Linked DNA regions of Homo sapiens: region 2 is linked to region 1. Evidence: fine-mapped expression QTL. Tissue or cell type: testis. Region 1 holds a variant in brackets; the other region holds the start of a gene. All regions are shown on one strand. Distances are from middle to middle.

What was found. PIP is the estimated chance that this variant, and not a neighbour inherited with it, causes the effect. A credible set is the group of variants that fine-mapping cannot tell apart.
Region 2: it holds the start of LINC00408, and the variant in region 1 is the best candidate, but not a certain one, in a credible set for the expression of LINC00408 in testis (GTEx, PIP 0.74).

What each region holds. Positions count from the first base shown.
Region 1 is chr13:18,940,558-18,945,935 of GRCh38, reverse strand. No RefSeq gene overlaps it. Among named protein-coding and RNA genes, the nearest start is that of LINC00408, 38 kb to the right of the region's middle. The variant C/A (reference allele first, on the strand shown) is at 2,337.
Region 2 is chr13:18,902,741-18,908,066 of GRCh38, reverse strand. LINC00408 (long intergenic non-protein coding RNA 408) reads right to left here and starts at 2,628. Exons shown (of 6, transcript NR_104118.1): 1 at 2,491-2,628; 2 at 1,957-2,040; 3 at 1,409-1,570; 4 at 265-432.

The DNA.
Region 1 (5,378 bases):
ATATTTGAGACCCTAGGCAAATCCCTTTACCGAATGGGGGCCTCACCTCTTATTATTAAAAAAAAAAATCAACATGGGGTATAAAGCATGGTTTTTACATTGAACAGGAAAGAAAACAAACTCATAAAGGAAAAGGCAATTTATTCACTTGTTTTATTAATACAATGAAAGCCCTAGGGATGTGTTTTACTCTTAATCTTAGCCAAAAGGCTGAGAAGTGATTGGGATAACGTGTTTTAGAGCTGGCCTTAGACAAAGCAGAATGCAGGAGCTGTTTTCCCAGGTTGGGCACCATTCTTAGGAAGGTGTTTCCCCGCAGCTTCAGGTTCAATTCTCTCTTCTTAGTGATCCTAGTGATGAGGTTATCTTTATCCTGAGAGCTCCCGATTAAAATCCCCTCAGTCTTTTTGGCTTTAATTGGTCAGGCTTGATCACATACTTTCTCTAATAGTTACTGTGGCCAGAGTGGCTGATTTAAAAAAAAAACAAAAACAAAATACTGATCAGCTATCTTTACTACTGTAGCCAATGGTAAGGACAGTTCTTCCTGAGTTACAGACAATGCTGCAGTTGTGGTGCCTGCAGGCAAATCAGGGACCCAAAGAAAGGAAAATAGATTTTGGGAAAGCAAAGCTACAGATATCCATCACAAATGACCAATGTTTCTTCCTTTTTTTTTTTTTTTTTTAGGTAAGGTCTCGCTGTCTTGCCTAGGCTGGAGTTCAGTGGCATGATCATAGCTCACTGCAGCCTCGATCTCCCAGGCTCAAATGATCCTCCCACGGGCCCAGGGGGGTTGTGGAGTCCCTGGCTTGCACCCAGGGTGCGTGTCTCCAACACGGTGGGGGGGCACCTGAAAGTGGCAAAAAGTGCCCCGGGGCACGGGAACAGGACGCCAGGCTTGCAGGGGGACGTCGAGGCAGCCCGGCGAAACAAGCGCGAGGCCGAGGAGGCGGCTGTGGTCATCCCGAGTAGGCCAGTGCCCTCCTGGCCACTCCTGCACCGGCCCTGGCTGGGTGGGGGATGGTCGTGGAGTCCCTGGCTTGCACCCAGAGTGCCTGTCTTCCCCATGGGGGGCACCTGAAAGCAGCAAAAAGTCCCCCCGGGGCTCAGGGACAGGACGCCAGGCTTGCAGGGAGACGTTGAGGCACGCCGGGGAAACAAGCGGCAAGGCCTAGAAGGAGGCTGTGGTCATCACGAGTTGGCCAGTGCCATCGTGGGAGCCCCTGTGCCACTGGAGAGGCATCGTGGAGTCCCCAGCTTGCACCCAGGGTGGGGTCTCCGACACGGAGGGCACCCCAATGGGGCAAGAAGTCCCCCGGGGCATGGGGACAAACACCAAGCTTGCAGAGTGACGTTGAGACAGCCCGGGGACAAAAGGGGTAAGGATGAGGAGGCTGGGGTCCTCTGAGGCCAGTGCCTCCCGGCAGCACCTGCACGCGGGGGTCATGGAGTCCGTGGCTTGCACCCAGGGTCTCCCTCACGGGGGGCACCCCAAAGTAGCAAGAAGTTCCCCGGGGCACTGGGACAGGAAACAAGGCTTGCATGGGGACGTTGAGGCAGGCCAGGGAAAAAAGCGGGGAGGCCGAGGAGGAGGCTGGCGTCTTCCCGCGGAGGCCAGTGCCTTCCCGGCTGCCCCTGCGCCGGGCCCGGGGGTTCGTGGAGTCCCTGGCTTGCACCAAGGGTGCGTGTCTACACCACCGTGGGCACCGCAAAGCGGCAAGAAGTGCCCCGGGACACGGGGACAGGACGCCAGGCTTGCAGGGGAACGTTGAGGCAATGCGGTGAAAAAAGTGGTGAGTCCGAGGAGGAGTCTGGGGTCGTCCCGCGGAGGCTAGTGCCTTCCCGGCAGTCCCTTCCCCGGCCCGTGAAGGTCCTGGAGTCCCTGGCTTGCACTCAAGAGTGCGCGTCTCCCCCACAGGGGACACCCCAAAGCGGCAAGAAGTCCCCCGGGGCAGGGGAATAGGATGCCAGGCTTGCAGGCGGATGTTGATGCAGCAGGTGGAAAAAAGCGGCGAGGCCCAGGAGGAGGAAGGGGTCATCCCGCGGACGCCATTGCTTTTCCGGCAGCTCCTGCGCCCGGCCCGGCGTGTCCTGGAGTCGCTGGCTAGCACCCAGGGTGCGTGTCTCCCACATGGGCGGCACCCCAAAGTGGCAAGAAGTCCCCTGGGTCACGGGTACAGGACGCCAGGCTTGCAGGGGGAGGTTGAGGTAGCCGGGGGAAAAAGCGGTGAGGCCGAGGAGGCTGGGATCATCCCTCAGAGGCCAGTGCCTTCCCTGCAGCCCCTGCGTGGGGCCCAGGGGGTCGTGGAGTCCCCGGCTTCACCCTGTGTCTC[C/A]CCCCACCGGGGGCCCTCCAAAGCGGCAAGAAGTCCCCCGGGTCACGGGGACGGGATGCCAGGCTTGCGGGGGTATGTTGAGGCAGCCCAGGGAAAACAACAGCGAGGCCGAGGAGGCGGCTGTGGTGGTTCCACAGATGGTAGTGCCTTCCCGGAAGCCCCTGCGCAGGGCCGGGAGGGTTGTGGAGTCCCTGACTTGCACCCAGGGTGCGTGTCTCCCCCACGGGCGGCACCCCAAAGCGGCAAGAAGTTCCCCATGGGACAGGGACAGGACGCCAGGCTTGCAGGGGGACGTTGGGGCATCTGGGGAAAAAAGCGGAGAGGCCCCAGGAGGAGGCTGGGGTTCTCCCGCAGAGGCCAATGCCTTTCCGGCAACCCCTAAGAAACGATGATTCAGGCAGACTTTACAAGGCAATGACCCCTTTGCTTTCAATGTATAATAGCACGTCCCTAAAACTGAAAGAAAAGGATTACTGATGGCTACACAATTTAGTCACAATCACAGTCATGTGACTTGCTTTAATGACATTCAATGCCTTTTTAAAAAAGATACCTGTCATTAACTGCTTCTGCGTTATGATTGCTAGGGTAAGTTTCTTTAAATACACTGTTTTATTCTAATAAATTTTCAGGTGTACGATAAAAACCCTGATGTCATAGTAAATGAATATTTCCTGGGGAATAAGTTGTCCGTGTCTTTGCGACGAATGCATGCTTTCACAGAAAACTTCCCCCAGTGGGATTCTGGCATCTGGGATAGTTTATTTCACTTAATAGGAACGTGCAGTTTACTGTCCTGGAGGAGTTTATGCAACATTTGATCAACTGTTATACTATTTCTTAAGATGAAATAAATACATGTAAGATTTCATAGATGATCTCTCTGTGTAAATATAAATTCTCGATATTTACTGGCTATTTCAAAGTGTGGTAGAAAAAGCAGCCACTGTGATTGTAAGGGCAGATGCACTTACAATAAAGAGGGGATTGTACTGAATATGGAGGAGCTGAACTGATGATTTAAAATTTATCAGAATATGATAGGAGTCCTCTTTAACCACTCTGAGCTATTTGTAATAAACTCGAGTAATTTTTGTCTTCAAAAATTAAAGTTATGTTTCATCATGTTGCTCTAATTCTTGGCAAATCCTCAATTGTTTTGCTCTGCAAAGTGTTTAATGTTCATGTTGACATTCTCCACAACGTTAGTAGTAATGACTTAGAACCTAGACTTATTAAAGAGATTACATTTTTACTTTTACATTTTTACAGAAACTTAATTTTTGGGTTCTAAAATGATGTCTCTGTCCAAGTTTGCAACACTGACACTTTTACCTTAATGTTACCCATGGAAAAAAATCAATCAGCTGAATTAGATTTATTTTTACAGGAAAAAAATGTGTAATTAAATTCATGAAACCCCACTATTATAAGAAACAATATATCATATCTATATCTCTCTGTATAGATATGCCCTTTACAAGCAAAGTGGATAATAGACTGTTTATTCACAAAACATTTCATATCTTTGCATCATATCACATGCAATATGGTGAAATAAGAATAGTTTTAACCTTAGGATCAAATATTTGGTTCAAATCTCAACTTTACCACTTACAAACTTTGTAAACTTGGGTTTTATTTATGTGTTTATTTATTTATTTTACCATTTGAAGCATCAGATTATATAACAAAATTAATAGTAATTCATAATGTACATAATGGTTTGTAGATTACAGAACAGCAGTAAAAAAAAAGTCTCACACAATGATTGGAGCATAACAGAGATTGAATAACTCATTTCTCCTTGTCTTCCCTTCCTCCACAAGGGATTAGCTTACATGTTTTCCATTGTGAATACCTGATAAATATGTTTTTACTTGGTTTACTAAACAGTTAAATACACACAGATTGACCAATTTCCTTCAAAAAAGTTGTAAAGGTATTTTCACAGATTAAATTTAGAAAAATGTTACCTTAATTTTTTAAATCATCTTCTGACATTTAGTCAATAATTCCTGTGTATTGTCAGGAATTTAATGAAATAATATATTTCACATAGTGCATTGAATGAAATACATATGTAATTATTCAACTACATGTTACTTATTGATACATACTACATTTTGTAAATTAAACAAAAGTTTACCTGAGAGCAAAAAACTATAAACAAGAATTCTTATTACAACATTTTTATTAGTAATAAAAACTTAAAATAATCCAAATAAATGTACAAAAACAATCACAGAGAAATATTATTTTTCCCCTTATTACTAAGCAGAGAAAAAATTCTAACAAATTTTAGATAGTATGTAGAGAATAGAATCCATTATTATTGCATTTTTGTAAATAGTAAAAAATGAAAATATATATAGATATTATGTGTAGAAAAAGGAAGAAAGGGAACTGAAAACAGTTATTGGAAGGGGAAGGTGATTATGTGGGTCTTTCTCTTCCTGCATTATGTAGTTCTCTAATGCTTAAACTTTGTAATATATTTTATATTAGAGTACATATTAATATTATCCTTTGGAAATAATATAACTTTCTGACTAAAAATGAAGAAAATAATTTGAGAGCTTGTCTCTTAAGGCAAATGACTAAGGTGATTTAACTATATATGTCTCAGTTTTCTCATCTAACAATTCTCATCTAACAAACATCTAATCTACTTTATAGAATTGTGGAAATAACTTGAAATAATGCGAGAGAGACCACTCTGCAATATATAGTGCCATCTCATAATTCGAAATCCAAAAATGGATTTGCTTCGAACTGTTGATAAGATTACCTTGCCCACCTCTAATTCAAGGTGGAAGACAGTGCAGTAAATGGCTCTTACATAGATAAAACACTGCCTGCCTTAGCAGCTAGGTTTAACTCCTTCAGAGACAGGCTATTGTCATCAGTTAGTGTTGAAAAACTAATCTCACACTTTCAAAAGAAAAGCTCAATTACCATGTTGCAGCAAACCTAAAGAATAGTCATATGCAACAGTGGCCATCAGATTGTTTATTAAAATGATTTATGATTCATATGTAA
Region 2 (5,326 bases), 38 kb after region 1:
CAACCAATCCACTCTGGACAAAAATTTAGACACTATCTCTTCAACATAAGCTATCTAGTGGCATTTTTACATATCCTTACACATATCAACAGTATTTTACATGCTCATAACCTTAAAAATAAAAAGTGTCAAAATTATAGACTTTATGCATTCCTGTGGGCTTGAAAAATGATACAATATAGATTGTTTCTTTAAAGTAGTCAATAAAATGCATAAACTTCAAGTAATCACTAAAAAAAGATTTCATACCAAAGGTAGTAATACCAGAAATAAAAAAGGGCTCAACACTGCAGGTTCTTGAAGGCAAAAGTTAATAAAGACTTTGTTCTTGTTGTGAATCTTGGCCTTAAAACATTATACACATGATCCTCCCTTCCTTTTCCTGTTGCAAAGATGTGATGAACCAGATTTGCTCATGCAGATGACAATACTCTTGAAAATGGTGGCAGAGAAATAAAATGAAAGGAATACAGTTCACTTAATGATCTCATAAATTGGAACTAATTACCCCCTGACTCTTGCATAGCTCCAGACTATGTGAGAGAGATGAAATGGCTGTTTGCTAGCAATATTTTATCTGATGCTTCATTTTTGATTCCTTGAATAACTACTTACAACACATTAAAAGGATCATGAAAGCATAGCTATTCAAGTAACCAAATAATTACGCAATCAATGTTTTTCCTCATCTCTAAAGCATAGTAATGGACTGATTATTTTAAGAATACAACTCGGTGACAAGTAGTTTATGTTTAACTCAGTTTTGGTTTGTTGTTTGTTAAGGCCATTGCTTAGGATAATGAAAACAAGAGGAGGAGAAACAAGAATATAAACAAGAAACAGAAGCAGCAGCATAAGAAAATGAAGAGGAACAAGAAGATGATGATTAGAAGAAGAAAAAACAGACTGAAAGAAAGGAAGAACAGGTGCGGGAATTACAAAGCCTATTATGATACCTTATTTCCCCTCCTGATTTATGAAATTTGAAAAAAATTCAAGACTTTTCACAACAAAGCCAAGCTAAAAGATACACCAATAGTCACCCGCTAAATTTTGCTAAGAATAAGACAATGTTGCCACTCACACCTGGCCCAGGCACCAGCAGGAGGAGGGCACTTCCAGATTCTGCAGGAGAAGGAGGAGGACTCCTCCTTGCCATGGCTGGGCCTCCACTGCTGCCACCTAGGCCCACAGTACAGCACCCGCAGCTGCCTCCCCACTTCAGGCCAGGCTGGGCCCGGTGGGCTCCACAGCATTCCCACTCCCACTTCTCGGATCCCAGACTTGCTGCTGCCGCCACCACTAATGCCAACACCAACATGAGCACCGCTGCTGTTGCCCTCAATGCACCGGCCCACCCTACAAGCCTCCTACCACCTCCAGGAGGCCCCCGCAGACACTCTCCTACCACTCCACCACTCTGGTCAAGCTGCAGTCTCTGTCTCTGCCACCAACTGCAGCGAGGTGAGCCACAGAACCATGCCATCTGCAGGCTCCAGCCTCCAGCGTGCAACAGATGACTCCTCCATCTCCTGGCTCGAAGCAACTGGGTGGTAAAAGCCAGACGTGCCTAGAACAGGATGCAGGGAGTGGTAGTGTTAGAGGCTCACCTTGTCATGCTGGCCACTGGGTGGCAGGGGCTGGTTTCATCAAAGGCACAACTGGGACCTGGGGTGGGTGTGACTGCCTTTGCTGAAACCGGCCCCTGGCGAGGTCCAGCTGGCCAGGAACTGCTGGGCCCACGCTGGCTGCACTCCTTGGTGAGCAGGAGAAGCAGAAACTCAGACCCAGCTAGCTCTCTCCAACCAAGTGCCAGTTCCTGTTTCTGATGCCTCCACCCACAGGACCCTGTTCCCCCGTGGTGCCCAATACTCCGTGCCCAGGGGTCCCAGATTGTCTCTGCAACACAGTGAGAAGGGGCAGGCCCGGGAACCATGGCGGGTGTGGGGGCCTTACCCTGCTGAGGATTCCCAAGGAAACATTGTGCACCTGCCACGCTCCAGCATGAGCAAACAGAGGTTGCCCTCTAGAATCTAGAGTCTGGGAAGAGGAGGACGGCCCCTTCCTTGGAGGCCACAGCTATCGCAGCCACCCCCGTAGCCCGTTGCCAGAAGCAGCAGTGCAGTGCAACCCCCAATAGTGCCCCCCCACCGGCATGCCACAGGGCATGTAAACCTGATAGTGCCCCCAAACTGCCCCACTGCCCCCAGCAGTGCAGCCAGGGATAGTGCCCCCAACCAGCCCTTGCTGGGGGTAGTGACAGCCCAGATAGTGCCCCCAACCTGCCCCCCTGCCATGACAGTGCAGGAGCTGATAGCACCCCTAACCCTCCCCCTAGCTGGCGGTCAGCCCCCTTAGTACACACAACCACCCCCACCACCAGGCAGTATAGCCCCCACCAACTCCGCCAACCCATGCCCCCGATACCCCACCGGCAATGTGACCTTGATAGTGCTCCTACCCAGGGTAGCGCATCCCTGGATAGCTCACCTACCCTGCCACCTTTCTACCATGCTGGCCAAGCTGCAACCTCCATCACCTCCACCAACCGCAGTGAGGTGAGCCTAGATACCACAGGCTCAAGCCGCCAGCTCGGGGTATGTGGCTCCCACTTCCTGTTCTCTAAGCTGAGCTCCCAGCTTCGATTCTGATTGGATGAGAGCAAGTCTTAGGACAACCAATCACAGCATGAAAATAAAGTCCAATCAGAATAGGCCTAGAGGTTTTCTCTCATCCAATCAGAATATGTAGTCCAGGAACCTCATTTGCATAAGCTCATGTATAAGGCATGCAGAAGGGGCATCAGGCCATTCCAGGCTCTTGTGTGGCTGCCTGCGCAGCTGCTCCGTGCCAGGCTTAGAGGACCAGGAGAAGGGGTAGTCACTTGCCACAGCTGGAGGCTGGAGCGTGTGGCACCACGGCTCGCCTCGCTGTGGTGGGTGCTGGCGACAGAGACGGCAGCTCGGCTGGAGTGGTAGGAGGGGGTACATAGTTTTTGGGTAGATGGAGGGATAAAGAGGGTGGCTAGCAGCAAAGGGAAAAGAGGATGGCAAGCAGGAGAAGGCATTGCAAAAAGACGGTGGGGAAAAGATGGTTGAAAAAAGTTTTTGGGTATCTAGGGGGTAAAAAAGGGTGGCATGTAGAAGGAGGAAAGACAGGGTGGTGGGGGGGGAAAACGGGGACAAGTAGGAAGGAGAGAAGGTTTGCAAAAAGACGGTGGGGAGAAACACGGTGAGGAGAACAGAAAGACTGGGGAAAGAAAAGATGTGTAAAAAGATTTTGGGTAGATGGAGGTGGGAAAGGGTGGCACGTGGGAGGAAGAAAGAGGGTGCAGAGAGGGAGGGGGAAGACAGAAGGTGGTGAGCAGGAGGGAGAGAAGATTTTGTGAAAAGTCGGTGGGGACAAGATGGTGGGGAAATACTTTTTTTTCAGTAGATGGAGAAAAAAGGGTGGTGATCAGGAGAAGAAAAAAGGGTGGCGAGTAGGAGGAAGGAGAAGGTTTTGCAAAAAGACGGTGGGAAGAAAAGACAGTGGGGAGAAAAAACTGGGGGAGAAGCTTTTGGGTAGATGGAGGAGAGAAAGGGTGGCAAGCGGGAGAGTGGAAGGAGGATTGGGAAAACGACGATGGAAAAATAGTTTTGGGGTAGATGGAGGGCGACAGGAAGGTGGCATGTAAGAGGAGGGGCAGGAATGAGGAAAAGAGGGTGGTGAGCAGGAGGGACAAAAGAGGGTGGCAAGCAGAGGGAGACAAGGTTTTGCCAAAAGACCGTGAGGAAAAGACAGTGGGGAGAGAAAAGTTTTTCGGTACATGGAGGGGGAAAAGAGGGTGGCAAGCGGGAGAGGGGAAAAGAGGATGGCGAGTGGGAGGGAGACAAGGTTTTGTGAAAAGATGGTGGGCAGAAAAGACAGATGGTGGGGAAAGAAAAGACAGACGGTGGGTAAAATGTGGGTAGACGCAGCGGGAAAAGAGGGTGGCAAGTGGAAGGAGAAAAGAGGGTGGCGAGAGGGAGGAGGGAAAAAGTTGGGGAAAAGACGATGGGGAAAATAGTTTTGGGGTAGATGGAGGGCAAAAGGAGGATGGTAAGGATAGAGGAAAGAAGAGGGCGAGTGGGAACGGGGATGGCTTAGTGAAAAGACGGTGGGGAAATTTGCGGGGGTAGATGGAGGAAGAAAGAGGGTGGTGAGCAGGAGTGGGGAGAAGGCTTTGTGAAAAGACGGTGGGGAGACGTTTTTGCGTAGATGGAGAAGGGAAAGAGGGTGGCAAGGAGGAGGGGGGAAAGACGATGGGGAAAACAGTTTTTGGGTAGATGGAGGTTGGAAAAGCGGGTGGCGAGCAGCAGGAATGGCGAGAAGGCCTTGGGAAAATATGAGGGAAAAGTTGGGTAGATGGAGGAGCAAAAGGAGAATGAGAGCAGAAGGGAGAAAAAGAGGGTGTCCAGTGAGGGGGGAAAAGTTTTTGGGTAGATGGATGGCGAAAAGGGTGGTGAGCAGGAGAGTAGAGAAGGCTTTGCGAAATGACAGTGGGGAAAAATAGTGGGAGAAATGTTTTGGGGTAGATGAAGAAAAAGGGTGGCGAGAGGGAGGGGGCCAAAGGTGGTTGAGAAAAGAAGGTGGGGGACAAAATTTTTGGGTAGAACTTTTTCTGAGTTTTAAATCAGATTATTTGTATTTTTGCTTTGAGTAGTTTGAGTTCTTTATATATTTTGTGTTGTATTAACCCCTTGCCTGATGCATAGTTTGCAAATACTTTCTTCCGTTCTCTGGATTGTTTCTTCATTCTATTGATGGCTTTCTCTACTTTGCAGAAGCGTTTAAGTTTAATGCAATTGCATTTTGTCTATTTTTGCTTTTTGTTGCTTGTGTTTTTGATGTGTATTTGAAAATCCCTTGTCCTAACCAATTTCATGAGGCATTTTGCTGTTTTCTTCTCTAGTAGTTTCATAGTTTCATGTCCTACATTTAAATCTTTATTTTCAGTAGATGGTAAGATAACAGCCTCGATGTATTCTTGTACATGTGGGTGTTGGGTTTTCCTAGCACAGTTTATTGAAGAGATTGTCCTTCCCGAATGTGTGTTTTTGGTGCCTTTGTTAAAAGAGTTGACTGTACGCCTGTAATCCCAGCACTTTGGGAGGCCGAGGCGGGCGGATCACGAGGTCAGGAGATCGAGACCATCCCGGCTAAAACGGTGAAACCCCGTCTCTACTAAAAATACAAAAAATTAGCCGGGCGTAGTGGTGGGCGCCTGTAGTCCCAGCTACTTGGGAGGCTGAGGCAGGAGAATGGCGTGAACCCGGGAGGCGGAGCTTGCAGTGAGCCGAGATCC